Regions from separate parts of the Homo sapiens genome. Here all the other regions are linked to region 4. The links come from fine-mapping of genetic effects on gene expression. A gene starts in region 4. Each other region holds a variant in brackets. All regions are shown on one strand. Distances are from middle to middle. Region 1 overlaps EFNA5 (ephrin A5). Region 2 overlaps EFNA5 (ephrin A5). Region 3 overlaps EFNA5 (ephrin A5). Region 4 holds the start of EFNA5 (ephrin A5).

The links.
Region 1: its variant is fine-mapped to the expression of EFNA5 in whole blood (TOPMed, PIP above 0.99).
Region 2: its variant is fine-mapped to the expression of EFNA5 in blood mononuclear cells (TOPMed, PIP above 0.99). The same link has a PIP of 0.9 or more in whole blood.
Region 3: its variant is fine-mapped to the expression of EFNA5 in thyroid (GTEx, PIP above 0.99).

The regions. Positions count from the first base shown.
Region 1 is chr5:107,484,697-107,493,178 of GRCh38, reverse strand. The region is part of intron 1 of EFNA5 (ephrin A5); the gene reads left to right. Among named protein-coding and RNA genes, the nearest start is that of EFNA5, 180 kb to the left of the region's middle. The variant C/T (reference allele first, on the strand shown) is at 4,375.
Region 2 is chr5:107,471,063-107,479,544 of GRCh38, reverse strand. The region is part of intron 1 of EFNA5 (ephrin A5); the gene reads left to right. Among named protein-coding and RNA genes, the nearest start is that of EFNA5, 200 kb to the left of the region's middle. RefSeq lists enhancers at 4,660-4,809, 6,278-7,032. The variant G/A (reference allele first, on the strand shown) is at 4,834.
Region 3 is chr5:107,509,642-107,518,123 of GRCh38, reverse strand. The region is part of intron 1 of EFNA5 (ephrin A5); the gene reads left to right. Among named protein-coding and RNA genes, the nearest start is that of EFNA5, 160 kb to the left of the region's middle. RefSeq lists silencers at 749-798, 5,742-6,036 and enhancers at 4,698-4,757, 5,742-6,036. The variant C/T (reference allele first, on the strand shown) is at 4,151.
Region 4 is chr5:107,668,929-107,673,928 of GRCh38, reverse strand. It overlaps EFNA5 (ephrin A5), which reads left to right and starts at 2,992. Exons shown (of 5, transcript NM_001962.3): 1 at 2,992-3,440. The coding sequence starts at 3,316. RefSeq lists silencers at 29-108, 1,480-1,549, 2,910-2,959, 3,530-3,599 and enhancers at 189-238, 140-639, 2,380-2,519, 3,230-3,359, 3,760-3,839.

The DNA.
Region 1 (8,482 bases), 180 kb after region 4:
AAAGTGAACAAATAAAAGTAATTATTCTGGAGAGACATTATGTAACAAATAGGATATATCTCCTTTTCTCTAGGTGGTGGCTTCAAATCTAAAATAATGTATATATTTTTAAGCATTTTTTTAGCTTTCCTGTTGAAAAAAAATCTTACAAGAATAGATCTTAAAGATGTATTTTTTTTTTTTTTTGAGATGGAGTCTCTGTCCCCAGGCTGGAGTGCAGTGGCGTGATCTCTGCTCACTGCAACCTCCGCCTCCCGGTTCAAGCGATCCTCCTACCTCAGCCTCCTGAATAGTTGGGATTACAGGTGCCCGCCACCACACTCTGCTAATTTTTGTATTTTTAGTAGAGACGAGGTTTCACCATGTTGGCCAAGCTGGTCTCAAACTCCTGACCTCAGATGATCCGCCCGCCTCGGCCTCCGAAGGTGCTGGGATTACAGGCATGATCCACCGTGCTCGGCCAAGGATGATTTTCTTTCAGAGTGAAATTGAGAGCCCTAAGGTATCCTTAATTTTGTTAAGGTTCTGGTGGCGTCTGGTGGCTTCTTTCTCTAATGGGAGTCTTGCCTGTGAGAGTGACTGAGGTGAGAATAAACACATTCCTGAAGCTTCTTAAGTCATACTGAAGAGAATGAGATGATCACAACTGATAAATGAAATAATGTGTATTTACTTGAAATGCTGAACTTTTGTCAAGCATACCTTAGAGGGAAAAATAACATGCTTTCCTTTAAAAACACATTATCTATTTTTTAAATTCACTAACTTTTATAATGTCAAAGTAGGTAATGATCTTTCTAGCTGAATAGTTATCATAATAAAAGGATGACATATAACTGTTTCTTAACAGTGTCCAGGTGCAGTGTTTTAGATATAAAATCTTTGAAGCATTTTTTCCAAAATGTATTTTGAATATTTTTTTTAAAGGTTAGATTTTTAAAAAGTTTTTGTAACTTTATAAGACTGAATAATTTTTTTTAAACATGGTTTAGGAAAGTTTGTAGTTGTTTTGCTTTTATTTGTACTTTTAAAATTACATTTTTAGGCCAGGGGTGGTGGCTCATACCTGTAATTCCAGCACTTTGGGAGGCAGAGGTGAGCAGATTACTTGAGGCCAAGAGTTTGAGACCAGCCTGGCCAATATGGCGAAACCCTGTCTCGAATAAAAATACAAAAATTAGCCTGGCATAGTGGCGCGCACCTGTAATCCCAGCTACTCGGGAGGCTGAAGCATGAGAATCGCTTGATCCCTGGAGGCGGAGGTTGCAGTGAGCCGAGATTGCACCACTGCACACTCTAGCCTGGGCGACAGGGTGAGACTCTGTCTCAAAAAATTAATTAATTTAATTTTTAGTATTTGAATGTATAATACATATACCTGATACAAAACTTAAAAGCTATAAAAGGGTATACAGTGAAAAACATGTCTTCTTCCCACTCCTATTTTCCAACTATTCAGTTCCCCTCTGAAGAGGCAATCTTTGCACATAGATTTTGTGGATACACATATAAAGTCATAAAAATTGCAGACTTCCCTTATTCCAGTCACCAAGAAAAAAGAAAGAACAGTCTGGGTGCGGTGGCTCATGCCTGTAATCCCAGCACTTTGGGAGGCCAAGGCAGGTGGATCACCTGAGGTTAGGAGTTCCGGACCAGCTTGGCCAACATGGTGAAACCCGTCTCTACTAAAAATACAAAAAGTAGCCAGGCATGGTGGTGGACACCTGTAATCCCAGCTACTCAGGATGCTGAGGCAGGAGAATCACTTGAACCCGGGAGGCAGAGGTTGTGGTGAGCTGAGATCACGCCATTGCACTTCAGCCTGGGCAACAAGAGCGGAACTCCATGGAAGGAAGGGAGGAAGGAGGGAGGGAGGGGCCGTCTGTATTGCCTTGAGAAAATGCTAGAATTAAGAGTTCTGCTGCCTGAAGTATATACCATGTTATAATTTTTAATATGCCTGGAGGTGGGGACTTGTCCTGTCGTTGGAGGCCGTTTGGCCAGACCATGGAAAAGCAAGCCTATGTCCTGTCCCTAATGGTGACAAAGCCAAGAGTCTCTGAACATTTTATTACGGAATTCTGATAACACATGTGCTCTCTAATTCATAAATCACTTCATATCACAATGTGGCTTGAATGAGAATAAATGTAAAATGTGTTCTTAAGCCTTAAGCAAGTATGGAACCCAGTTTGCTTTCTAGGAGCTGAGTTTGAAGATGATTGAAAGTAAAAGAGTTAATGAAACCTCATCTTGTTTTTAAATATATAATGAGCAGGATCTCTGCAAGATACCTTAATTAATACTGCCCTAATGGTTAAGATCATGTCCTGTTAGAGTATGTGTAACTAGGATTAATACTGAGGTGCTTTTCCCCACTGGATGGTGACACAGTAAGTAAAGAGGAATCTGAGTAGCCGCTGTAAGGCATTGGTCATGACAGTGCACATGCAGACTTCTTTACCTGTATCAGTGTCCTTTACCTATGCAGTGACAAGCATAAGTCAGCGGTTAATGTTCCCTGCCAAAGGAACTCTCATGTTGGATAAACTTTGCAGTGCAGGTGGTAGCCTACCCTGCACTTCCCTGAAAGGTGAGGGTGAAGATTTCACCCCCTCGCTGGCAGGCCTGCATCTTAATGCTGCAGGGTGAGGATGCAAGAGATGCTTGATTTCTTTTGAAAGGATTCATTTGATGATTCTTTTTTTGGAAAATGTCACGCAATTCAGGGAGATAGAATAATTGTTTAACTGAAAGCATGGGTGGGATGTGTTAAAAGCAATAGCTGGGCATGGTAACGTGCACCTGTAGTCTCAGCTACTTGGGAGGTGGAGGCAGGAGGATCCCATGAGCTAGGGAGTTGGAGTCTAACCTGGGCACCATAGGAAGATCAGGTCACTAAAATACATAAATAAATAAACAAATAAATGACATAGTGTGAAGCAAGTTCACTATGCACTGGTTACCAACTTCTCTGAGTCTAGTGAGACAGAACACCCAAGCACACAAGTTATACAAAGCGGGTTTATTATCTATAGATAGGCATCAAGGAATAACATAATCCTAGAATTAATTGCTAGCTAGCTGGTCCCCCATGGTTCAAGCAAGCTGCCAAGGAAAGATGGAATCTTGTCCCTGCATGCCCCACTTGTACCCCAGCTGAGGGACCCTGGAGATCCACCCACCCTGGGTTTTATACCCTGAGTCATGAGATCTTCTGGGCTAAAGTGTTGAAGGACATCCTGTTCTGGGGACATTGGAACTAAGTCCAGCTGTTTCAGCCAGGTCCCCTCTTATCTCAGGATGTTGCATTCCTAGCACACTGGTACAGTTATTCTTGAGAGCTACAAGCAAGAAAGAGCATAACTGAGTCAGTGCAAGGCCACTCAGAGAACTTTCCTGTACATAGTCCTTGCTATGGATATGTTTTCTCATTTTGCCACAAATAAATGATATGAAAAACTGATAATGTTCAGTTGCAGGAATGAAACATTAGTGTTAGATCTTGGTGGGGGGGGTAGGTGGGGTCAAATCAATCACAAAATGCTTGGAAGCTTTAGGGTCCAGTGAAGGCACCTGAGGTTCCAGGTACCTTTTAGAATGTGAACTTAGGTTCACATTGGACTAAAACTTTTTTAGGTATGATTTTAACATTAACCCACAGAAAATTTTAATCTGTTAAGTTTGGTTTAAATTTTATCTGGTCCAGGACGGGCACGGTGGTTCATGCCTGTAATCCCAGCACTTTGGGAGGCCAGGGCAGGCAGATCACCTGAGGTCAGGATTTTGAGACCAGCCTGGTCTTGGTAAAACCCTGTCTCTACTAAAAATACAATAATTAGCCAGACATGGTGGCACGTGCCTGTAATCCCAGCTACTAGAGAGGCTGGGGCAGGAGAAATGCTTGAACCTGGAAGGCGGCGGTTGCAGTGAGCCAAGATTGCCCTACTGCATTCCAGCCTGGGTGACAGAGCAAGACTCCATCTAAATAAACAAACAAATTTTGTCTGGTCCAATACATGAGTTTGCAATAGATTAAATGAAATATTGTAATGATGGTAATAGTTAACTTATTGATAACCTATTATATATACCTTGAATTTTAAATCCATATTTTATTTTGGGAGGTATAACACTGAATCCCTCAGGTACAGGCTTTGGACAGTATCTTAAAAGAGGTTTTTTTGTGGCCGGGCGCAGTGGCTCATGCCTGTAATCCTAGCACTTTGGGAGGTGAAGGCAGGCGGATCGTGAGGTCAGGAGTTCAAGACCAGCCTGCCCAACAGGTGAAAACCCATCTCTACTAAAAAATACAAAAAATTAGCCAGGCGTCGTGGCACTCGCCTGTAATCCCAGCTACTTGGGAGGCTGAGG[C/T]GGGAGACTCGCTTCAACCCAGGAGGCAGAGGTTGCAGTGATTTGAGATCGTGCCATTGCACTGTAGCCTGGGCGACAGAGCAAGACGCTGTCTTGGAAAAAAAAAGAGTTTTTTTGTTTTTCGGTCTTAATGTTTCTTTTAAGGGCTCACTAGTTGTGTGTGTGTGTCTTCTTAAGAAGTGAGTCATAATAAAACCAGGTATAGCTTCTGAATGGAGTGCTCTTTTAAACTTGGGATTTGTAAAATAATTTGATGCTTGTAGGATTCCCTGCTGACAGCTGGAGTTTTAAAAAGGGTACTTCAACAAGAGGAAGCCCCTGCAAACCCTTTCTGATAGAGAATAACTAGAGATATCTGGGAAACCCAAAGCAGAAGAGTCTAGCACATCATTTCTTTACTTCACTCACCGTCTTTGACTTTGGGGATTAATGTGAAACAGACAATAATCTAAATAGACTTGAATAAACTTCAGAAACATTACTTTATACAATGTAAGAAATTTACAAAAATAAAACCAATGAGTGAGTGAATGAATCAATCAATCAATAAAAAAATTGAACTAAGCCGCAAGATGGGGGATAAGATAACATTTGTATACAGCGGTTAGTATTTCTAGCTGCTTTTAGCTCTAGTATATTTTCTTTTGTTATCTCCCACATGGGACTCATGTACTCCCTGAGAAAAGCAAATCTTCCTCTCAACATTTGTGTTTTAAATAGACCACCATTTTTCTGGGACCCCAGGCTCAAAACATTAATTGATATTAGAGACCCTAAAGGCTGCTGACTGGAATATTAGACCATCTTAGATTTCTATTTTCACATTTCCATAGGCAATACTCCCCTTTAAGTCCATTTCCCATGTAATGTTGGATATAATACAGTAGTCTGCTAGCTGGTCTATCCAGCCTCATCGCATAGGGAGTAATCTTTGTAAAATTAAATTCAGCAAATATTTGTTGGCACCTGTTATACAAACACTGTGCTTGTTGCTATAGGGGATACAAATATGATTAGGACACAAACCCTGTTTTCAAGGAGCTTTACAGTCCAAGGGGGAATAAGATTGGCATAAACATAGCTGACATTCAAGGCACAAGGTGCTACAGGGCTGAACAAAATTATCATTTTGCTGCTCATGAAGTTATCATGATTCCCTATTACCTTTTGGATCAAGTGAAAAATTCTCATTCTTTGTAATTTGACACCTGCTGGCTGCTTACATTTACATTTTACTTCTATCCAACAAACCTCTACTCTGCCCCTGTCATCTGCCTAATACTCTCATGGACACAGCCATGCAGATATTCCTTCTTTCCTTTATTCATTCATTATTTCTGCAAATACTAACTGCTTGTCAGATACTGTGCTAGATGCTCTGGGGGAAACAAAAGTGAATCACTCACTGCCTTGAGCAACTCACTATCCATTGGAAGGGGATTAAACAAAGTTTTTAAGGAACAGTGTTTTGTAACAGAATGCACAAAGTGCTGAGGGAGGAGAGAGGAGCTGAAGGCCTCACAGAGGAAGTGAATCCTGCCAGAAGTTGGTTAGGTGTTCACCCGGGGGGAAGAGGGAGTGGGGGCCATTACAGGCACAGCAGTGTGTCCCAGTTCATGGAGGCAGAGCAGAATGTGGCTCAATCAGAGTGCTGACGGCAGGAATACAGGATGGGAACTAGTGGGCAAAAATAACATTGGGAAACAGAGCCAGATACCATGGGCCTTGACCCTATGCTAAGGAAGTTGTTCTTTATCTTTTGTGCCAGGCGATTCCATTTGAAGTTCAAACAGAGATGTGAACAGATGTAGGTCTTAGAATGCTCTAGCAGCAATGTGGAGTATTTGAGAGATATTGGAGGCAGACAGGTCAGCCAAAGGGGGAAGGAAACTAAAGTATAAATACACTGAGGAGACCCTAAAATTCTTTTCATAGTAACTTTCTCTAGCTCCTCCCTGCCTTGGTATCTATATTTGTCAGGACAGAATATATTGTGCTGCAGTAACAAACAGCCCCAGGATCTCAGGGGTTTGACAGAGTTTATTAAGGCAGGTAACTATTATCTGTGTGTGACTCAATGATAGAGGCCTCTTCAGTCTTGTGGTTTTGTCATCTCAACACAAACCACCACATAAGAGAACACTGAAGAGTCTTGCTTCAGCCCAAAAGTGACTCATGTTCCTTCCGCCCACAACTCTGCCTAACTCTAAGGTAGTAGAGAGGTATAATACTCTCATACGCCCAGAAGGAGAAGAAAGTTAGATATGGGTGAACTCTATAAACTGATGTCTTTCTTTTATCTTTTATAGCCTCAGGATTTCCATAAGTTACCCGAACCACTCTCCACTATGTAGTTATGCATTTTTTTTTAGAATTATCATCATAAGTTCTTTCTTATGGGTGTGTCTTGTTTCTCTAGCTACCTGAACCTGATTAGGTTGTATCTTCCATATCTTTTAGCTTTTAAAGTTCCTTACCAGTCCTACTCCTGAAGGAGAAGCCGGTAGGCTAAATAAGTGCCTGTGAATATACATAGGGTTGAATTTGGCAGTGTGGCTTTTTTCTAGCAGGGCCTGGGTGCTCTTTCACACACACTCAGGAATCATCTGATTTGTTTTTTCCTTTGTTTGCTATTTCATGTCCATCAAATTATTGGAATTTTATTTGAGTTAAAATGAATCAATAAGGATTGGTCTCTGTTTTACTGTAACGCCTTTAATGTCATTTCACCTGCGAGACACTCATTTCTCGTCTCAGCCTAGTGAAAATTGCACATTTACCCTCAACATGACATTGTCTTGGCACGTTTTAAAGGTGAACCTGAAAGTTTAAGGGCATCTAAATATGCCGTGCTCGCTTCAGTATCCAGTTGGCGAGGTTCAATAGAAAACAAATCAATTGTCATCCCCTGTTGAAAATAAGCACACAAAGATCTAGCTTAAAAAAAACGAACATTGTAAAATGAATTCATACGCAGTAGAAGGTGAGGTCGAGACCCGTGGAGAACTTTATCTGAGACAGTGTTTGTTTACCTAGACCGAACATTTCATCCTTTCTTGGTCAATCTCTTTGACTTTTTCTTTCCTACTAAGCCTGACTTTTAAAATAAGTGAGAGTCAGTGAAGCAAACCCCAGTTCCGATTAGTTCCCCATAGCATAAAGACAGAATAAGTGAGTATCTCTAACTTTTGAACATAATCCATAGGAAGTAGGTATGGCAATAATTATTTCTGGTCCAGCACAGAAAGCTAACAGATCAATTCACTCTTTCTCAAGGACCAATTCTATCACAAACATTTTCTTCCCAGAGAAAAAAAGAGAGAGAGAGAGAGATTCATTCAGTAGTAATAGGACTTGCTGTTTATCTGTCATCCCCAAAACTTGAAACAGTTACACTAGCACACCTCAGGGGGTTACTTGCTGGCTTCCACTTCTGCCTGAGAATTTGCTACTGTGAAATGTGTGTATAGTCTTGCTTTCTTTTTTACATTGAATTTGCATTTTAATGTTTTTCATTCTTCATAGCTAAGAGGGAACTTTCTTTTTTCTAGTCATTTCTACCTTGGGACTGCTACAAGTTGAAGTCTGGCTAGAATTGGACCATCTAGTGCAGACAAAAGTTGAGATGCAGAAAAGGGATTTGAATAGAAGTGCAAGGAAAAAGAACAGGATTAGGAATTCAAACCCTCCTCTTAGATTTGTATTTCCTACCTTTTTTCTTTTTTTAAAAAAATCTGCTTTGTTTTTTCATTTTTCTCTGAAATTTCTTAATTTGTATTTCCTACCTTTTTTTCTTTTTCTTTTTAAAATCTGCTTTGTTTTTTCATTTTTCTCTGAAATTTCTTCATTTTTCTTTCATCTCTCCATCTTCCAATTTTCTACTTCTTGTTTTTTGTGGTACCTTTATTTTTAAGATGTGTTTCTTTTTCTATAAACATCTGAATTGGGTAATTACTGTACCTGCTTGCAAATATTCCTCAACTCAGAAATCTAAAAAAAAAAAATACAAAATCATAACTATCACAGTTAACAGCTCCTCATCTTCCCTGTGCTCTACCTAGGTACCCTGAGTGTTAGATACAGTATCTCACTTAATTCTTCACCACCA
Region 2 (8,482 bases), 200 kb after region 4:
CGAGTAACCTCAAAACCCACAGCGACAGTAAATCACTTGTTGGCCTGAATAAGGATAGCTATAATTTAGGTTGTTTTTTTTTTTTAAATGTGTTTTCATTTATTGAGGTCAGTGCATTTGTGTCAAACAATTGAAACCTGACAAGAAAAATCAAGGGTAGCCTGGGCACTGCTCAATTATTACTCTGATCAGATTTTAATTAGCACCATATGTAAAAGGAAGTGCTATTTTTATTATCCATTACCATGCACTTGCTTACATATTTACCCCTGGGGTTAGAAGTGTTTCATTAATTATTTTTGTTGGCAACTAAGACAGTATTTTGACTTCTGAATTGAAAATTGCCAACTTGTTTAAACACGAATACCCATCATAAGAAATGAACAGTGCTGCTTACCAAGTGTGAACAAATCTCTACAAACTAAAGTAATTTATGGTTAAGATAAGGTCATTAGCCTTAATTTTTATTCATAATGTCATTCCAGACTCTGTCATTTACAGATTATTTTTTAATCTAAATTAAAATTACTTTCTTAAATTGAGCCCTTTCAATCAGTATGAATGGTTAACATGTCTTTGCATCTCTTTTGGTATAGTATACTTTCCTGATCAACAGGTTAGCAGTGCTTAATTGTATGTTTTTGGAGCAGGCTTAGAGAAGTATAAAAACTTCCATAAATAAAACGAAAAGTTTCATTTTAGTAAGCAGACTAATGAAATATGAACCTATCTAATGACAATGGTAAATAGAAGCATGAAAATAATCATTTTACAAAAATAATTAGATACTACAGGATTTCTATTGGTTCCAGAAGTAAACTCAGGTGACCTTGTCCTATTTATTAAGACCAATGAGCTCCACTTGGTACGTTTCTTCCTTTGCCCCTGCTACTTCTCCGTACTTTTTACATGCTGTCTAGAAGTTTTCAACTTTCATGCTGTATATTTTTTCCTGTCTGACTTTTATGACTTCCCCCATAAAATGTATTCGTTGTCTGAGTCTCACAAATCCTAAACTACTTAATGGCTATGGCTGCATCCATTATGCTGCACTGTGTGTTTGCGTGTGTGCTCTCCCGACATCTGTGTAGATATCTTCTGAAATTTACAAAACCTTTGTAACTAATCCCATAGGTTAACCGGAGTAGGGGCAGTATTTGTTGTTGCTAATTACACAGTGGAAGCCTTTGGGAAATAGGCCCTTTGTTAATGATAAATTTGAGCAAGCAACTAAACATTCCTGAATAATGCTGAGAATATTACTCGCCTAGGTCTTTATGACTATGGATCTCTTGCCTGCCTCCTCTTTCTCCGTAGAAGTCTGGCCACTGTGCCTGATATGCATATTAATTGCTGGATCAGGAGGAGAAGCAGGGAGCTTCCTTTGGCAACAGGGTGTAACACAAACAGCTGAGTAATGAGGTACATGTGGATTATTAGGTATGACATAATGAGTAGCATTTCTATCATGGCATTATATATCTGTCAGGGTTTTTGGTCAGGCTTTTTCCTTCCTAGGGTTTAAAAACCCTGCTCATGTATTTCGGTGGTTATCACTAAAAATGGCCAGAAATCCCACTGCTACCAATCAGTTATGCTACCTCTAAATATCAGCCTCTGATTGATAGCTTGTTAAAGTGAGTTTCAAAACCAAGGGGAACTCTCTTTAGAGGAGGTATGTATTTGATTTAGGGTATATTGATTTGCATAATTTAGCAAATAAAGTACTATATAGTTAAAGGTCTGGAGACATTTACTTTTACCTAACTTAAAAAAAATAATATATTGTGGCCTAGATTAGTCACATAAGAGCCACCCTGTAAAAAGGAAACAGTGCAGGTAGAAGTTAGTCAAGAGAACACAATAGCCACACCTTGAGAAACCTTTCACCTGTGGCTTAGTTATTACTATCAGGTTACCCAAAAGAAAGAAGGGTTATATAGAGAAATAAAAAAGATTTATAACATGTATCCCCAAAAGACACCTGAAAAATAAGAGAATAGGATAAATGTAATTGCCAGAGATCCTTTTACAGTTATAAATTAATGTAGACAATTTTCTAGAGCAGTAATACCTCATGTAAGAAAGCCCTTTGCCAATATGTATTTTCTGCTTGTTTTAAATCACATATGCGACTTTGGTTCTAGATTTGTACCTTTAAACAGTCCAGAAAGATAAGAGTTTCTGCAGATATTATTCTATTGATTGCTTAATTCAAAAGATTATAAATTACTTCATCTGTTTTAGTGGAAGAGAAAGTCTTACATAGGTACATAAATATCTATATGTTAATATTATGATTAGTATCTCTTATCTACACATTGACCTATTCCTTATGTTTCTCCGTAGCTTCTTACCAAGACATTTTTTTTCTCTCTTGATAAGCCAGTAACCTCCCTTTTGAAACTGTGTGATGTTTCTCTTTTTGTTTTGGTTACTAGGAGGCTCAGCTGGCTTTCGTGTTGAGTTGCCACACAGCCTTTCCTGTTCATTGTCACAGACCCAGCAGCACCTAGCACATAGTGATACAAATGCTCAGCAAATAGACACTAAATCAGCAAATGTGTGACTTGAAATAGTTTTTCATTATGACTGATTTCCTGTCCACTTTATGTCTGGCTTTTTTGTTTTTAAGCTATATAAGGTGTAATGATTTCATTCTGTCTGATTCTGATTTGTGAACCACATCAAATCATTTCATCAAGGAGTCAGGGTATAGTATAACCTGAAAGGAATATGCCTCTGTTTTATACACTGTGACAACACAGTTTGGATGTTCCTGTGAGAGAGAGAGAGAGAGAGAGAGAGAAAGAGAAAAAATAAACATTTTAAGGGCAGCTAAATGGACTAAGAATAAAGCATTTCTGTAGGGACTTCAAATCAGAGAGTCCTGATACATAAAATTACAGGTATTGGACTTCATAGAAAGCTAATGAAATGTTTCTCCCCAAATTCTGTCAGATATCCCTATTGAACTGGTCATTTTCATTTGTTTTATATTTAATGAAACCAGAGGGAGAAACAGCAGGAATAGAAGGGTCTGTTTTGAAACTCTAAACAAGCCACCTGATGATTTTGTTTATCACTTGAACAGCTCTGGGTTCTTGTTTTGAAAATACAGATGTGTAAAGGTTTACATAGTTCCATTCTAAGTATAATATACTCTATTTTGCTCTCAAGAATATAGTTCTTGACTGGGCACAGTGGCTCACTCCTGTAATCCCAGCACTTTGGGAGGCTGAGGTGGGTGGATCACCTGAGGTCAGGAGTTCAAGACCAGCCTGGCCAACATTGTGAAACCGAATCTCTACTAAAAACACAAAAAATTAGCTGGGCGTGGTGGCAGGTGCCTGTAACCCCAGCTACTCGGGAGGCTGAGGCAGGAGAATTGCTTGAACTTGGGAGGCGGAGGTTGCAGTGAGCCGAGATCGCGCCATTACACTCCAGCCTGAGCAACAAGAGCAAGACTCTGTCTCAAAAAAAAAAAATATATATATAGTTTAAAAACTCTCAAGCCACCTTGGTATCTTCCATCTCATGTTTTATAGATGTTCAAACTGTACCATTTCAAACAGGTGCCGTGCTGTGAAAAACATGAACACAGTTTGAAATTCACTCTTGTAAAATATTTTGATATTAGCATTTTTAAAGGATCTGGGAAGTGTTGATATTCATTAACAACATCTCATTGCTCCAGAAACAGTTCAGCCTGGGTATTTTGAGGCTGAAGTCATGTCATCTCAGGTAGAACAACACAAAGGGCTTGCACTTTGGGGTAGTTCTCGTGAGAAATATGTAATCAGATTGTGGATACCCTAGACAAATCTTCTGTCTTAAGATGTATAAGTCTTATGCAGGGTAAGAATGTTGCTGACATAGTCCTTGAACAGCCTTCAAAATTATACTGGCTTTTCAGGCTCTGTTCCCCTTTAGCAATGCAGCAGATTGAAATAACTTCTGAAGCACTTTGAAAATATTGTGCTACTGAAAGCCTTAGAATCTCTTGACATTTTTCTCCCAGGATCCTCACCAGATCCTTTGACGTGGACAGTGGTGGCATTTTGTTTCTCTTGAGTTTCTTGAAAAGTTCATATAAACCACCATTCTCTCCCAAAACCTTTTGCAGTTTTCTGTGCTACATTTTCATAGGACATTACTGAACACTACAAACCATCTGCCGTTTCACACTTTGCTAGCTGAGGTCAGTGATACTGATAGCTGGGTAAGTGTGAAGTATGTGAAATGATTAGCCATCTCACAAGGGTGGGGTTGCACCAGTACCTGTTTGAAAAGCTCTTGTATGTTAATCCACAAAGACAAATTAATTATTAACATTTAATATCGTATAACTTACAGGGAGAAAAAAGGATTGTTTATTCACTGTGCTACTGTGACACCTTTGTTCAACAGGGAGCGTGTTACAAATGCCACAAGTAGTAACTTGAGGATACATCCTTTAACAGCTTATTAGTAGTCATTTCCCAGTCAAGTAAACATCTTAGCTCAGAAGTTTGTTTAGTAAAGCACAGTCATATTGTGGAAGCAGGAAGTAACCTCACATTGCACAAACACTGTCTTAACAGTGGGACAGAAACTTTTCTAATGACAATGATTTTTATGTAAATTGTATAGGCCTTGAATGGTAGGAACCTAGACAGTTATGAGTCAACATAATTGTCCTTTCCCTTAGAATGGCCCTTAATTAGTCATTCATTTATGTTGTCTTAGATCTTCGGGGCTTCTTCTTGCCTCTGGCAGGTCAGCCAGCATCATTCTGGAACATGGTGGCCTCTTGCTAAAAATATTTAACAAGATTGAGGTGGTGTTTCCTGT[G/A]TTAGCCAATATTTGATACCAACAGGCCTGACATATTTTAACAAAGTTAGTGGCCTAAAGATACGCCCTTCAACAGGATAAAGCCATCCCAGGATGCTATAGGTGGGTGAATTGCAATTAAACCATTCCTCGTTCGTAATGCAAAGATGCATGGTTGCATGACAGCACCTCCCTGTATTGTATTAGTCATGCCTGGAGGAAAACTCAACAAGGGTTTCTGATCCTCTGGGAAATTTTTACATACTAGATTTGAACTCAGACTGTTTGAAATCCTTGAAAACTCCATTGTGGCTGTTCAGTGCTGATGACCATTTCTTAAAATGGAAAACAATCTGTAAAATATTATTGATTACTTGGTATACTGAAAAGTGACAAAGGCGTGGGTGCTTTGGCAAGGGATGCAAACTTTCATGGCTAATGCAGCCGGCAGGTACCTAAGTGAGAAAATCAGACCTGGTGTACAAACTGGGTGTCATCCACTCCAGCAGAATATTTCTGTGTAAGAAGAATGTGGAGCCAGTGGCATCTGATCATCCAAGTTTTCAAGAGAAGGTAGAAACATGTACTTTATTTGAAATCTCTGGGTTTCTAAATATTGGTTCAGATGACTCTGAAACATTGTACTGGCTAAACTCAAGTGTACAGGGCCGAAATTGATTCACAGGCCATCAGTTTACAATCTGTCTTTTATGGAGATCTGTGTCAAAAGCATGATAGTCATGTATTTGCTATGTGGATGTTAAAGTCAAATGAGGCCAGGCATGGTGGCTCATGCCTGTAATCCCAGCACTTTGGGAGGCCGAGAAAGGCGGATCACGAGGTCAGGAGATCAAGACCATCCTTGATAACATGGTGGAACCCCATCTCTACTAAAAATGCAAAAATTCGCTGGGCGTGGTGGCACATGCCTGTAATCCCAGCTATTCAGAAGGCTGAGGCAGGAGAATCACTTGAACCCGGGAGGCAGAGGTTGCAGTGAGCCGAGATCACACCATTTGCACTCCAGCTTGGGCAACAAGAGCGAAACTCTGTCTCAAAAAAAAAAAAAAAAATTCAAGTGAAAATCCGATTGTTAATGAATTAGAATATCGGATCATAACACGTTCTAGAGCTGGAAGAATGTGTCATGGTTTGGCATCTGTTCCACACCAAATTGTAGAGTGTTAGGCTACCTGTATTTTCAGATTCCTTCTGCTTTGAGAATTAAATCTGTTGTAGTCACATTCTGACTTTGGGCATAGTTCTATTTGCCTCCCCAGTGAGCAGACACCTGGCTCTTCTTGGTGTGTATATGAAAAGTAGAATAAGTGGAATTCATTAGAAGCTGGCTGCTATCATGTTTAGGGAATTCAAGAATGATATCAACAAGGAGAATGAATAAAAGAAATATTTAAAGACCCAAACTCCACTAAGATGAGTAGACTCAGACTGAAAAAAAAAAAAAAAAAATCAGACCTGGAAGCAATGGGGAATGATGTGGCTTTTTAGAGTCAAGATTTGGGTCGAATAGAGTGTAAGTTTCAGAGGCAAAGTTTCAACCAATGTCAGCAGTACAAAGGCTACAACTTCCAACATCAGATCTCCATCAGTAACAACATCTTGGAAGAGGGCAGAGTTGTTTGCAGAAAAACGGTGGCTGGGGTCCCTGGAATGAGTGAGAGCAACCCCAGGAGGTAAGGTATAGGTGAATGAAGAGTTCAAGCAGGTGCTGGGGGGAGGGAGACTGGGGGCTCCATTTACAGTGTTGAGATGCCTGCAGGGGCTAAGAATATCAAAGGTTTGTTCAAATATCCTTCAGCCTTTTCATCAGCTCGACATTTGCATCCCTTGGTCCTACCAGCTTTATTTCAACAGTGAGTACACTCAGATGACTGAGCCAGCTCACGTTACTGATCTCTATCTGTTTGTCATTCTAGCTCTCTTACCTCCCACATGAGTTGTACCTTTTTGGTGCAAATAAGCTGCCAGAGCTGGCTTGGCTTGATCTCTGTGCTGCAGATGTCTCTAATTAACTTGATTGAGACAGGTCCATGGGATCCTGTTGCACAGTCTGACAAGTCCCACTGTCCTGGGAGGCACTATCCCATCACCTGAAGCATGCCTTTTGCTAATGTCCTTTGGGCAAAGTTTATTAATGACTAAAGTCTTCAAGTACCCATAGTTTTAATATGAAAGCTGTGGAGTGATGGTTGCTAATTTGCAGCCAGGAGTGTAAGAATTATCTCAAGTTCTCATTTAAATTCTGAGTAGAAATCTCCAGAGACCTTTACTAACAACTTCTAGTGTTTTTAACATCCAAAGTGTTACAATTTTTATCATCACTAATACTATTAACATTATTATTTGCAGTAGCTGAGAGAAACACGGTCTTGAGTCACTGCAAGTATAGACGCTTACGATAAAAATATTTGATGACGCCATCGTAACCTAGTGACAAAACATGTAATAAAACAAGTGTTTGGAAGTACTGGTTTGACTAGTTGTGAGATCTGCTAGATGTCTAATTACTGTAGGTTAAATTAGCCCCCAAGCATTGTAGAGAATGGATTTGTCTTTATTTCCTTTAATATCCACATTTACTCTTGTTTTTCTGGAATAATAAATTATTCAATCAAACTTTATATTTTGTGTGTATGGCTTTGTGCATGTGTTTTCTGTGAATATCTATAGCTTTTCAGAACTTGTGTATATCACTGCAGACTTAAGGCTATTTGCACTCTTTGAAACAATATAGCAGTTATTTCTAAAACGTATGGACATGGATATAACTTATTAAATGTTAAAAGAAACAATAGATAAATCTTCAACTACATGTAAGAACTACTACATATGTAATATCACTGTCTTTATTATCCCCTATAGCTACAACACCAAGCTATGAAGGAGAATACTGTATTCTTTGATGTTTAAATTCTTTTTTCATTAGTTACCATTCACATGTGGATGGATCACCAAATACATCTTTTCAGCTGTTGTAAATAATCACAATCCATGGTCCAGCCATCACTAAGCAACATGGCCTTGCCCTACCCATAATTTACAAGTGGATTCACCTATTAGTAGAAGTAGTTCATTATCGGTTATCCAGGCTACATTATTCAGTTGGAGGATTAATGTTTCTATCATCAACTGACTAGCATGAATTTGTAGACCATGTGCCCCAAAATGAAGGATAAAGACAAGATAGTGACATGATCCTTATCAATGCCAAGGAATATAAAATGTTACTGGGACCATGTCTCAGATTTAGAAAAAATAATCTCTGTAACTGCACACATTAAGTGTAATAATATCCTCAGTCCTGTGCAGTCTCAGAAAGGGAAGAGATCTTGGTGGGCTATGAAGGTAATGAAAGCTTAACAGAACTTAACCACTGAAGAAAGCCCAGTGGAGGAGTGAGGGAATTGGAGGCAAAAAGGGGGAATCAACAGAGGCCTGAAGGTAGGAGTTTGCACAGCAGGTGAGAAGACCAGGTTACAGAAGAGTCCTGGGAATTGAGGCTGGATAGGTTCCATGCTACCAAAATATGGGGAGTGCGAAGGACCAAGCACAAATTAGAATTGATTTTACAGAATAGGGAGTCACTGGGGTTCCTAACCTGGGAAAGCCTGATGAATTGGGAGGCGATAAGGAGACAAGTGAGACCAGC
Region 3 (8,482 bases), 160 kb after region 4:
CTTTCATCTCTCCTGTAGCAGAAATTCCAGTCTCTGGGGCTTGCTAATTTTGTATTTGAAATATTCTAAAGCAGAAGGAAAATGCTGTTTACAGTGCCTTCATTAAAAAGCTTTTAATCCTGTTTTGTTGTTGCATATATAGTTTGGATCCCTGCTGAGTACACTTCATTGCATAAGAAAAATACAGTATTTTTAAAAGATATACCAATCAACCCAACCCAATTCTACTTTGACCCTGACAATTGAGTAGACAAAAACGCTTTTATAGTGTTCATACTTAGCAGATTATAATGAAAATATGAGTTTAATAGATCCTTAAGAATGTGTTTCTAAGTGATGTACAACCTTATTTTTGAAAAAGTCTTTTACGTAGCCTGCTTCGTTTGTTCTCACACATTATCACATACATTGCATAATATAACCGTACCACTTGTAATATGACTTGTCACAGAACATGATTCAGACATAATGCAGCGCAATTTGTTTGACGTTGTTTCCCAGTGATTTTCATATCTTGGCATATACAGAAAACCAAGATCTTTATTGGGCACACAAGAAGAGGCTAAAAGGATAATAATGATAGTGAGCACTTTTAAACTTTTCTCATATATTGAATTTAATATTCACAACAACCGTATGAGGTCAGTACTATTACTAGTGTTTACAGATGAGGAAACTAAAGTACAAGAAGCACCGAGTGATTTGTCCTGAAGTCACAGAGCAGTAGGTGGCCGACCTAGGCAGTCTGGCCCGGAGTTCAGTACTTTTATCACTGTGCTTCAACACACCTGTAACCCTCTCCTGAGTCACCATGATTGTATAGGAGTGGAGAAAAGAACAGAAACCATAATTTGCATGATGAATACTGTGAGATAGCATCATTGTCTTCTAGTTTCTCCTCCCTGCACCCTATAACCTGTAAGCTTTTATAAATACTGGACTTTTTTCCATCTTTTTTTTTTTTTAGTAACAGTGTTATTGAGATGTAATTTACATACCATAAAATTCATGAGGTGTAAATGTACAATCAATGAATTTTAGTGTATTTACAGAGCCATCCAGTCATCACGATATAATTTTATGACGTGTGTATTCTAGAAAGGTTGATACCCATTTATAGTCATCCCCTGTGCCTACCCCCAGCCCTAGATAGCCTGTCATCTATTTTCTGTCTCTATATACTTGCCTTTTTGGGACATTTTGTACAAATGGAATCATACAATATGTGTTCTTTTATGTCTGACTTCTTTCACTGAATATAATATTTTTGAGGTTCTAGATATTGGACTTTTATGTAACATATTTTATTATTTTTCAGACATCACTGAAATGTTTCCTAAGCCTACAGAGGAGCAAGGAGCCCTGGCTTTACTAAATAAATGCTGTGGTTTGCAGCTGTCACACATGGTTTAGATTTACCATTGAGGGAAAACATCATCACCATCATCATAAGCTTCCCAGATAATTAAGTACTTAGATGTGGGCTTCATGGTATTTAAAGCATTCTTTCTTTTACGGCCATATGTGTAGTGTATCAAAGAAGCAGTTTGGGAGGAACAGGAGTTGTCAATTCTATAAAAACAAAAATAACTTGAAGTGGTTATTTCTCATAATATAGTTAAAACAGTTGTTTGATTAACAGATTAGCAGACCAACAGGTTGTTTTGGGCACTACATAGACACAAGCCCAAGTCATTTCCTTTCATAGAGGTTTTTCTTTTTTACTTTTGAGGATTAAATTCTCTTGATTCCTGTATATCGTGGCTGCTTAAAAAAAATAAAACTCAACCAGGCATGGTGGCTCAGGCCTATAATCCCAGCACTTTGGGAGGCCGAGGCGAGAGGATTGCTTAAGGCCAGGGTTTGCCACCAGCCTAGGCAACATAGTGTAAACTCGTCTGTCCAAAAATTAACACACACACACACACACACACACACACACACACACAAAACTAGCCAGGCATTGTGGTGCCCATTTTTGGTCCTAGCTACTTAGGAGGCTGAGGCAGGAGGATCACTTGAGCCCGGTTACTTGAGGCTGCAGTGAGCCATGATTATACCACTGCGCTTCAGCGTGGGCGACAGTGTGAGACTGTGTCTCAAAAATGAAATAAAATTCTAGTGTCTAGGGCTGTAGGTCATTTGAATTGTAAGGATAAGTAACCCAACATAAATGGTAATTCAACAAATGGATGATGTAACAAGCTCTACAGTAAAATAAACCCTGTTCATTTTTAAACTGCTTTGGGATGATTTTTAGTTTCTTGGGCTTGGATTCTCCTGTGTACAACATATCTCATAGATAGATAGCCTTTGGGGCGTGAGCATGAGTAGGAAGAGGTTATAAGATTAGGAAGTACCCAGAGTTCTGTATTATAACACATTGATTTGATTTGTGGAGTCCAGGCCTTAAGTAGATAAAACAGAGCACTTTAAAAGCCATGTCTGCTGGGTGCAGTGGCTCATTCCTGTAATCCCAGCACTTTGGGAGGCCAAGGCAGGCAGGTCACCTGAGTTTGAGAGTTCGAGACCAGCCTGACCAACATGGAGAAACCCTGTCTCTACGAAAAACACAAAATTAGCCTGGTGTGGTGGCGCATGCCTGTAGTCCCAGCTACTAGGGAGGCTGAGGCAGGAGAATCGTTTGAACCCAGCAGGCGGAGGTTGCATTGAGCCGAGATTGTGCCACTGCACTCTAGCCTGGCAACACAGCAAGACTCCATCTCAATAATAATAATAATAATAATAATAATAATAATAAAATAAAAAATAAAAACCATGTCTTGATGCTGGGCATGGGGGCTCACATCTGTATTCCCAGCACTTTGGGAGGCTGAGGCAGGCGGATCACTTGACGTCAGGAGTTGAGACCAGCCTGGCCAACATGGTGGAACCCCATCTCTACTAAAAAATACAAAAATTAGCCAGGTGTGGTGGCTCAGTCGCCTGTAATCCCAGCTACTTGGGAGGCTGAGGCAGGAGAATCACTTGAACCCAGAAGGCGGAGGTTACAGTGCAAGTGGACTTTCTAGTTGATTGGGACCATCTTGTCTGCTCCTTGACAGTACACGTGGCTGGCAGAGAAAGGAAGATGGAGCTGCCATCCTGCACATGTCTAGTCCTTAGTTCCTGCCGGCATTCACCCATGCAAGCTCCTAGCTTGCAGGCAGCTCTTTGTTAGAAAATGATTTGGGGCTGTTTTTCTGTTTTTCATTAAAAAGAAAAGCCTTATCAAGGACTCCCATGCCCTTGCTATCTGCCTAATTTCTTCTTAACTCCTATATCATAAGGAGAGGTAGGAGATTAAGTCAGTGAAGTAAGGAAAGAGGAGACGGGAGGCAGGTCACGTAGGACCTCATAGAATCCTTGTAGAGACTTGGGCTTTTACTCTGAATGAGACAGGAAGCCATTGGAGGGTCTGAGCATTTGTTTCTCCTCCTTTGAAGAATAATTTTTTTATTTGCTTGACAATAAAAAGGGTTAGCACATTTCCATTTTTAGGGTTACCATTGGCCTTTGTGTTGATGGTTCCTTCTGGCAGAAAAATAAATCTGCCCTTGTATGTCAGCTTCCTTGGGTCTCCCACACACTCGTCAGGTTGTGGAGAAGTTTGAATTTAAAACAAGCATTTCACAAATGACTCACGTTCCAGGTGGGATGATGTGTTCTCTGCCTACCACAGAGAAGGGAGAAATCAGTTCACATGAAACAGTAACCTTTTCTTTCTCTCTGCATTTTCCTAGGAGCAGAAAAGCACACAAATGCTTTCTTTCTGATTGTGTATTTGGAATGTTCCTTAAGATGGATCTCTGTTGAATTCCCAAGTGAATACTCCAATCTGTATTTAGTCTCAAATTCTGACAAAAAAGAAAACCTCTACCTGATGAGGAGCCCCGTCTCTCTGCTGTTTTCTTTAGGTCTGGAAGATCAGGGATGCTTCATAACTTGGTGCCAGAAGAGAAGGGAAGATTGATTGGGGTTTTATGAGGTGGCAAAATACATAGCTAAACCTGGGGACAGGGATGTCATTTAGCATGACAGAAACAGCAGAAAACAGGAATAGTGCTTTATTTTGTTGTTTTTGTTAAAGCAATGTGAGACTTGTTATTTCTACCCCCGTGGTCCTGGTTGTTTTTGTGTTCAGCACAGA[C/T]GTTCAGGAAACAGATTCCAGCACCAACACCTGTGCGACGCTGACCCAGGCCTACCTCGCAACATCCTCCTCTCTTACTGTATCACACAGATCAGCTTACATGTCACACTTATTTCCTCTCCCCTCTGCTCATCCATCCATAGCTATCCACTGAGCATTTCTGTCCCTCCCTCTGAGTTCTTGGAATTAAAGAAAAAACAACATAGAGCCCAGTATCTCAGTGAAGAGCCTGTTTTTAATGGACGGATACCACCAGCCTCTTTCTGTTCAGAAACATCTTATGAATCACAAGCAGTTTTGCAGGCTTGCAAGAAGCTGGTGCCCCACAGCACCCGTCATGTAGAATAAATAAATGAACAGTTGATTTCGGTGGGGTGTCGGTGTCCTATTTTTAGAATACCATGTTTTCTGCTGGGGCCATTCAGGTAGTTCTCGTTTTAAAATTCTAACATCTGCCCAGCATACATCTTCTGACATCTGGCTTCCACTTGCTACACAAGTGAGACACTTTGACTCATTTCCCCATCTTTGCAGTGGGAGAGTACCCATTCCTGACATGCTCTGAAATGGGGCAGGTAGCAAATGATTTGGAAACAAAACCCACAGAATCAACATGCTCATCACATTTTATTATTAATTGAGCTCCCAAGCGAGTGTTTCCTTGTAAATCCCAACAGGCTTTTATTTGATAGAGTCTCTCTCTCTCTCTCTCCCTCTCCCTCTCCTCTTGGCTCAGGAGGGGGCAAAGCTGCCCCTCTTTTCCCAGCCCCAAATCTCTGACTACAGTAGGACTTAAGCACAGCAGCCTGAGCTGAAGCATGTCATCCCTGAAACAAAGCTACAGAGGCATGGTGCCAAGGCAGCCAGGGAAGCACAAATTACCTCTCATGCCTGGTGGGTGAGGCCCCTAGCCCCATCCCTGAGTCCATTCCTCCTGGCCACTGGGTACGTAAGTACCCATCAGGAAGGGGCAGAGCCTCTTTCTACTAAGAGTAGTACAGTCCAAATCATCAAAGGAGACCTCATCAAGACTAGCTCACTTGGAGACTTCTTCACCAAGGAGCACAGACTTAAATTTACAGTTGATTCTCTCCACAGCAATTTTATGTCTTCAAAGAGCTCCCCAATTATTTTTATTACGTTTTCTTGGTAAGCAACCCATGGTGAGGTAGTGCACAATGAACTACCTGAGGTATAAAAGAAGTTAAGTGATTTACTCAGAAAGAGTGGTTAGCAGGGTTGCCTTTGAATTCAGAACAGCATTCTCGGTGATTGCTGCTTGATGGAGCTGTCATCTTGGAGTTAAGTTCTCGTATATGCTTTTGCAAAAACACCATGGTGTGTGTTTGGCTCTGGCAAAACTTTATCTCATTGCTCTATTTTAATGGCAATAATCACTGGAAATCAGCACAAAGTCTTCAGCTTCTTAACCTGGGTGACATGCTTCAGTTTTGTGCCTTCTGTGACTCTCTGTAATGATGGCCTACAAGAACTGTAAACCTCCTAGAAGGTAAAAAAAAACAGGCTAGAGTATTGATTTCAGGTTGTGTGAGGAAGAAACAAGGTGGGGGTTTTTGTGTTTTTTGTTGTTGTTGTTGTTGTTGTTGTTTTGTTTGTTTTGTTTTGCCCCTCAGCTTGCAAATCAGTTGCTTATACCCAGGCGATTGCAGCCATTTACACCCTACTGAGGAGCCTATGTGGGGTTCTTTAACCACTGAGCCAGGATTGATTGACAGCCACTGTCTTCAACTACAACAGAGATGGAGTGAGCGCTTATACAGACTCAGTGGGGTGGGACTTCCCTGTTGAATGCTGCTTTATGTCTTTTCAGGCAAATGCCATTTACATCTGCCCACCATTTGAAGTCTCTTTTGACTTTCTATTTCTTTCGAAAGGAAGTAAAACAAGTGTTGCAGGAGCCACAGATAGCATCATGGCATTTTCTTCATTTTCTCAAAATGCACCTTTTGGGTGTTTTGTGAGCAAGATCTTAAGGAAAGTAGGTCTTTTCAGATGAAAATTTTGTGAAGTCTTACTATGATGTAAGCTAATGAAAATTTGGGGGAATGCATTGTGAGTAGGCAGGGCTATAATTGTTTTTTAGCCCTTTGAACAAACCATGTCTACATATAACATGTTCATGGTGCCACATTATTAGTCAGGTTTTTTTTAAGAAAAGTAATATATGTATGCATTGATAGATAAGAACTATTTTTTTTATGATAGTTTTGATGTTAAATAGGCAGTGGTGATAAGGATGAATTTAGAGCTATGCTATTAGATGATTTAGGGCACTTAATTTACAGATTAAAGTTGAAACTAAAAAGATTGTTGTACTTTTAAAAAAGCTTCAGGTTGGAATGTAACACTTTATAAATGGATATTCATAGAAAGTCACAATAGCAAAATATAGATTTACAAAATCAGTGTATTTTTTAGGATACCATTTATTTTATTATTAAAATACTGAGTTTATTTTACATGTATATTTTTGTTTCTCTACCAGTTTCATGCTTGACTACCACTACTACTATATTCTATCATAATATTCCATACATCCATTTACTTTAAAAATGTGTTCAAATATCCCTGATCTCATCATCTTTTCAAACTTCGTGGGGATTTTATATTTAGAAATGCAACTATGGTGCCGGGAGCAGTGGCTCACTCTTGTAATCCCAGCACTTTGGGATGCCGAGGCGGGCTGATCACCTGAGGTCAGAAGTTCGAGACCAGCCTGACCAACATGGTGAAACCCTGTCTCTACTAAAAATACAAAATTAGCCAGGCGTGGTGGCGCATGCCTGTTATCCCAGCTGCTAGAGAGGCTGAGACAGGAGAATCACTTGAACCTGGGAGGCAGAGGTTGCAGTGAGCCAAGATCGTGCCATTGCACTCCAGCCTGGGCAACAAGAGCAAAACTCTCCGTCTCACACACACACACACACACACACACACACACACACACACAAAGAAAAAGAAAGAAATGCAACTATGTTGAAATAATTATATAATCATTTTGATGACCATCCAGTCCACAAGGTTGAATTAACCATGTAGTTTAAAATAGTTTCTGTTTGAGAGTATTGTAAAGTAAGAAAAGATTTTTGGTCCTTGCAAAATCCTGAGTAGGTAGCTCGTTGTCATCCTAGTCTCAGTGTGTAGCTTTGGAGAAACTGATCACAACTTTTTTGAGACTGTGTTAAAACTTGCATCCAGGAGGTTTATAAAAAAAGATTGGGCTGTTCTGGTCTTCAGCACCTCATGACTTATTTTCTAAATTGTGACCCAGTCTTTCTAGTTTATTTCTTTACTCATATATTCAAGAAAACGTACTAAGCACCTACTTGTCATAAACATTTAAGACTTCCTGGTAACCACCATTTAAAGTATTCATATTGTAGTATTACCAGAAAGGGGTCCAGATCCAGACCCCAAGAGAGGGTTCTTGGATCTCGCAAGGAGTTTGGTGCAAGTCCCTAGAGTAAAGTGAAAGGAAAGTAAAGGAATAAAAGAATGGCTACTCCATAGGCAGAGCAGCAGCTTGAGGTGCTAGACTAAGGATACTTACAGTTATTTCTTGATTATAGGCTAAACAGAGAGTGGATTATTTATGAGTTTTCTGGGAAAGGGTGAACAATTCCTGGAACTGCAGGTTACTCCCCATTTCAGACCATGTAGGGTAACTTCCTGACATTGCCATGGCATTTGTAACTGTCATGGCACTGGTGGGAGTGTCTTTTAGCATGCTAATGTGTTGTAATTAGCATATAATGAGCAGCGAGGATGACCAGAGGTTACATTCATGGCCATCTTGGTTTTCGTGGATTTTGGTTGGCTTCTTTACCACATGCTGTTTTATCAGCAAGGTCTTTATGACCTGTACCTTGTGTTGACCTCCTATCTCATCCTGTGGCTAAGAATCTCTTACCCTCCTGGGAAAGCAGCCTAGTAGCTCTCAGCCTCATTTTACATAGCCCTTATTCAAGATGGAGTTGCTGTGATTCAAATGCCTTTGACAGTAGCATACAGTGAAATGATGATCATGGAGCATATTGTTATTAACTAATGGCGTAATCATTTCCATGAATTATTCAGTCATTAAACATTTATGTTCTGAGTGTCCATTATGTGCCATTCAATACACAGATATTTATTGAGCATCTGCTAGGATCAAGGACTCTTCTGGGTTCTAGAAATATACTAATGAATGTAATAGGCAAAAATTTCTGCCCTCGTGAAGGCCGTATTCCAGTGTTCCTCATCTACGTTTTTAAATCATTTATAACCATTCATCTGTATATGAGTATATTTTTAAGGGGTGTAAAAAGA
Region 4 (5,000 bases):
ATTGGTCATAGCCCTAGATTTCCCATCAAATTCAACCCGGCCTGAGCGGCAGGCAATGCCCCTGCTGGGTGCGGATTGCAGGCCCACCACTGGAGGGCGTCTGGACGCTTCTAAACAGCTCTGAAGCGCCTGGAAATCCCGTCTGAGGACTGGAAAGCGCAGGAGGGTGAACGTGAGATTTGATTTTATTGGGCTAATAAGTAAAAAGGAGTGCAGGCAGGTGTGGGAGCAAAAGTAAACTGCCTTTTTTCTCCTGGGGATCTGCCCTTCCCACTAAGGCAGAAAACTCCCTAGGGAACATGAGAAAAAATACCGCTGCTCCCGAGCCCGCGGACCCCTTAAGGGCGGGTCTCGGGGGCCTGTGGCCCCGCAGAGCAGGCGTCGGGCTCACTTCCTGGGCGCTGGACGACAGTGGGGACGCGTCCCGAGGCGCTGGGACAGTCTCGCTGCCAGGAGATCGCTCTTCAGTGGCGGCTGAAGACCAGGCTTGCAACCTGCCCTTGAAGTCCAGGACCGAGGGGCCTTTTCCAACAATAAAGGAACTGCTTTTCTTCCCACAGCCCCCGCCCCCGGCCCTCATTTCTTTCCGCACCGGGTTCGATAAAGGCGTTTATTCTTTGGGGAGTGGGCAGCAAATCACCCTCAAGGTTGAAATGGAAGAGGTGTGAGGTTATTTCTGAAGGGCTCGTCTGCCGCATTCATTTCCTCTCTGTGGAAGGTTCGCGCTGAATTGTAATCACTTTAAACTGTGATTTGCCTGATTTTTAAAAACGTGTTTTCAGAGCATCACTTTAAAGAAAACTTGCTTCCTGCCCAAGAATCTTTAAATCCCAAGTGGGAAGAGGAGGGCTGAAAGGCACAGGAGGGGTGCTCAGACTTCCAGATAACCCAGCGCCAGGCAGCGTGCGGCGTGGAGAGCGGGTGGAATGGACAGGAACGCGCACTCCCTGAGGCTCCGTTCCAGCCCATCCGTCACCTGCGGGGCACCAGAGACAGATGCCGGCTCTCCAGCCAAAGGGTGGGCACAGGTTCCTTTAAAATCGAAAGACCCTACTCCCAGGTAAAAAGATGTCAAATCATTCCTTAGCCCAGACGGAATTCAGCACCCAAAGGGTTACACGTGGCTGCCGGGCTCCGGCGCAGGAGAGGGCGCCTCGGCACTCCCAGTAATTCAATTAGTCAGGTTTCTAGAAGGTGGGGCGGGGGAGGGGGTAGGAGGCGTGGGGAAGGGAGATTAGGAAAACGCCTCTTTCTCGTGGAGCAAACCAATCCGGTTGGAGTAAAGAGAGAGGAAAAACCCCCAATCTGTAAGCAAACAGTAGGCCGTTCCCTGACTGGTTGCTCCAGCTATCCCCCCACCGCGCTCCCACCCTTCCCAAGTAAACTGCTTGGAAGGAGGAAAAAAAAAAAAAAAAAAAAAAAGACAGTCCACATGACCCGGGCCGCAGCGGCAGCAGCGCTGGCTGGGCGCGGGCTGGCGGCACCTCCCCCTGCTTCGTCCGGAGCTCACACCCGCGCTCGCGCCGCCCGCCCGTCCCGCGTCCCGCGCAACACGCCCGGGCGGAGCCCCATCCCCCCGCCCACGTCCACGTTCACGCGTGCGGCCTCGCGCTCTGCTGAGGCTGCTGCCACTGGGTCGCCGCCGCTGTCGGCTTTCCACGCAAGTCATTAACGAGGGGGCGTGCCCGAGGAGATTTTTTTTCCCATAAAGCATTTTTTCTCTCGCTCTCTTTTTTTCCCCCTCTTTTGCAAAACTGACTTTTACAAAACCCTTTCCACTTCTTGCCAGTCGTTTCAATTCCTCCTGGGCTGCTCGTGCTGCTGCTGCTGCACTCAAGTTTATTTATTTTCCCGCCTGGGTAGGGGTTTTAGGATTCGGTTTGTGGTTTTCACCTCTGTTGCTGCTGTGCCTAAGGAGGGAAAGAGGAGCAGCTGCGGGAGGATCGGGAAGGTTTTCTGATGTAGTCATCGGGGAGGTGCCACTCGCTCGTGCGCTTTTTTTTTTTCCTCTTTTCCCATTTCAAACTGATTGATGCATCTCTACAAGTTGCTAGGCTTGGACCCGCTGGAGTCGCAGGGACACTTCTGAGAGCTCACCCCGGGCTCTTGGCACCGCGTGTGGGGGCTCAGTCTCCCTCTCGGAAGGCGATCGGAGACTGACATCGGCCCATCCAGGAGTTGGAGGGATCCATTTGAAAGTGATTGTTTCCCCTCCCGCTCTCCAGCCGAACAGTTGGGTTGGCGTCGTCTTGCAGGTTTAGGAATCCCAGCTCTGCCAGGCCGGCTGGTCTTAACCTCTGCTCTTCATTCACTGTGGTGCACCCACACCCAGCCAAGGAAAGCACGCGCGAGAAATCCCCGAGGCTCGGCCAGCCCCCGGGGTGCCCTCTTCCGCTACCGCCGCGTTCCGACTCTGCTGGGGGACCTGCCGGAAGACGCGAAGAGCCAAACTTTTCTTTGAGGTTTTCGAGGCAAGACCGCTTCGAAAGCCGGCGCAGCTGCCGCTTAACCAGTTCCAGGACACCGACAAGGCTGGGTTGCGGCTCCGGATCCCCACCCTTCTCGGCGCACCGCCCGGTACCGCAGCACTTACGACTCCTCTGAGATTTCTGGGGGTCGCCCCGCTAAGGCACAGAGGAGGCTGAGGAAAGGGGTTCTCAGACTCCCGGGACCACAAGCGCGAAGCCCTCTATCAGCACGTCGCCCTTCTCCTGCAGTTTCCCACCGGCCGCCAAAGTAACTTGGAGCGAAGCGTGGCGCAGTGCGAGGGCCCCGGGCGGTGGCGGAGCCGTGCGTAGCCTGCTGCGCCGACGCTGAGCCGGGCCCGGCGGGCCGGTGTATGTCTCCCCGCGGCTGCGGCGCGCAACTCCCGGTGACTGTGCAGCGCGCGCCGCCGCCTGCCCCGACCCGCGCTGCAGCCGCCCGGCCCGGCGCGCACCTCCCTCTCCCGGGGTGACCGGCCTGCCGCCGCCGCCCGAGACACAGCTTGGCACCTCTTCCCCCGCCCTCGCCGCCGCCACCACACACACGCACGCTTCTCTCCATCTTGTGATTCCTTTTTCCTCCTGAACCCTCCAGTGGGGGTGCGAGTTTGTCTTTATCACCCCCCATCCCACCGCCTTCTTTTCTTCTCGCTCTCCTACCCCTCCCCAGCTTGGTGGGCGCCTCTTTCCTTTCTCGCCCACTTTCATTTTTATTTATTCATATTTATTTGGCGCCCGCTCTCTCTCTGTCCCTTTGCCTGCCTCCCTCCCTCCGGATCCCCGCTCTCTCCCCGGAGTGGCGCGTCGGGGGCTCCGCCGCTGGCCAGGCGTGATGTTGCACGTGGAGATGTTGACGCTGGTGTTTCTGGTGCTCTGGATGTGTGTGTTCAGCCAGGACCCGGGCTCCAAGGCCGTCGCCGACCGCTACGCTGTCTACTGGAACAGCAGCAACCCCAGGTAAGCCGATAACAGGCGGAGAGCCAGGGCTACCCGGGCCTCGGGGCCCTGCGGAAGGAGCGGCGGCGGGGATCGGCGCGCACCAACCGCTGGCGGCGCGCACCCTCGGAGCCTGCGTCGCCCGGGCGCTGATGGCTTGAGGCGTCGGCGGGAAGCGCTCGCGTCGCGCCCCTCTTTGTTAAGCCGCCGCGGAAAGGCCAGGTACCCCTGGGAGTCCCCGGGGCTGCCTAGACCAACTGCTTCTGCGGGGCGCCGGGAGACTCGGAAAAGGGCGGGAGCCGGGGAGTAGGGACTTCTCTGCTTCCCAGCCCCGGCATCTGGCTGGCATCCGGTTCCCGGCGCGGGGAGCCCCCAGTGTGCGCAGCCGGGAGCTCCTTCCTGGAGCGTGGGTCCGCAGGGACTGCGGAGAGAACCCGCCAAACATCCCCCAAAGTTTTTTTTTTTTTTTTTTTTTTTTTAATTTTAATTTTCCCTTCTCTTTTCCCGGTGCGCGCAGAGAGAGCGCACGGGCTGGGGGAAGTGAGGGGGGCTGGGAAGCGGAAGCTTTAGGTTTTTATTTTCCTCTTCAACTGCGAGGAAATCATTCGGCCCCTGAGTCAGTCTGGGCCCGGCGCGCCTGGCAGTGGAGAGGATTCTCCCATCTTCTCCATCCCTCCACCCACCCCAGTGGGTTCAAGGTGCCAGAAAGTTTGATCTAATGCCGGGTTACGTCATGTGTGCAGAACAAGCTGCCAGAGTTGGCCGAGCCAGGAGGTGGGAGCCCTTCGCCCGCGGCCTGGCGATGTGCTGCCGGAGGAACGCGCGCGATTACCTGGAACCGATTTGTAGGCGTCCCGAAGCCCGCCGGGTATGCGGGAGACTAGAGGTGGGCGCCGGGGGCGGTCCTAGTGCGCGTGCTGGACACCGGCCAGTCGCAGACGTCCCGTGTTTTCGGACCCTGGAAGTGGAGTGGGGAGGTTATCCAGAGTGCCCGGCGGGGTCCTCCGGGTCTGGAGCAGTTCCGAACCTTTATTGCTTCCCGGCCTGTGCACAGAAGTCGGCCCCGCTAGGCCCATACCGCACTGCTTTCTCTGGGACAGAGGCTAGCTTCCAGCTGTGTGCCGGTCTCGGTGCCCTCCTAGGTGCTATTTATTAATAGTACCGATTGCATCTAAAGTCACAGGTTTTTCACTGGGCTGGAGTGGAAGTTGGGAAGAGAGAGGCGGGAGGCCGAGGGGTTAGCCTAAGAGTTGGTGCGCGCCCCGGGCTCCAGGAGAGAGGGTATCGGTGGGCGCCTCCAGTTTTTTCTATCTCCTGCGGGCCCTCTCCGCCTGCCTCCAGCCTCCCCTCAGCATGCAGGCAAGAGAGGGATTCCCTGCTTGAATAATGTCAGCGCAGATGAAGATGGGAAGATTTCCCCACAAGCAGTCCGCCGGTTACAGAACCAGGAGGGAGTTCCCCCTATCCCGCTAGTCCAAGATAGTCTTACTCAGGTAGCCGCCCAAGTCCTAAATGAACCGCTGAACAGGAGTGGAGATATTCCTGAAAGTTTGGTTCAAAAAACAAGAGTCTCCTGGAGGT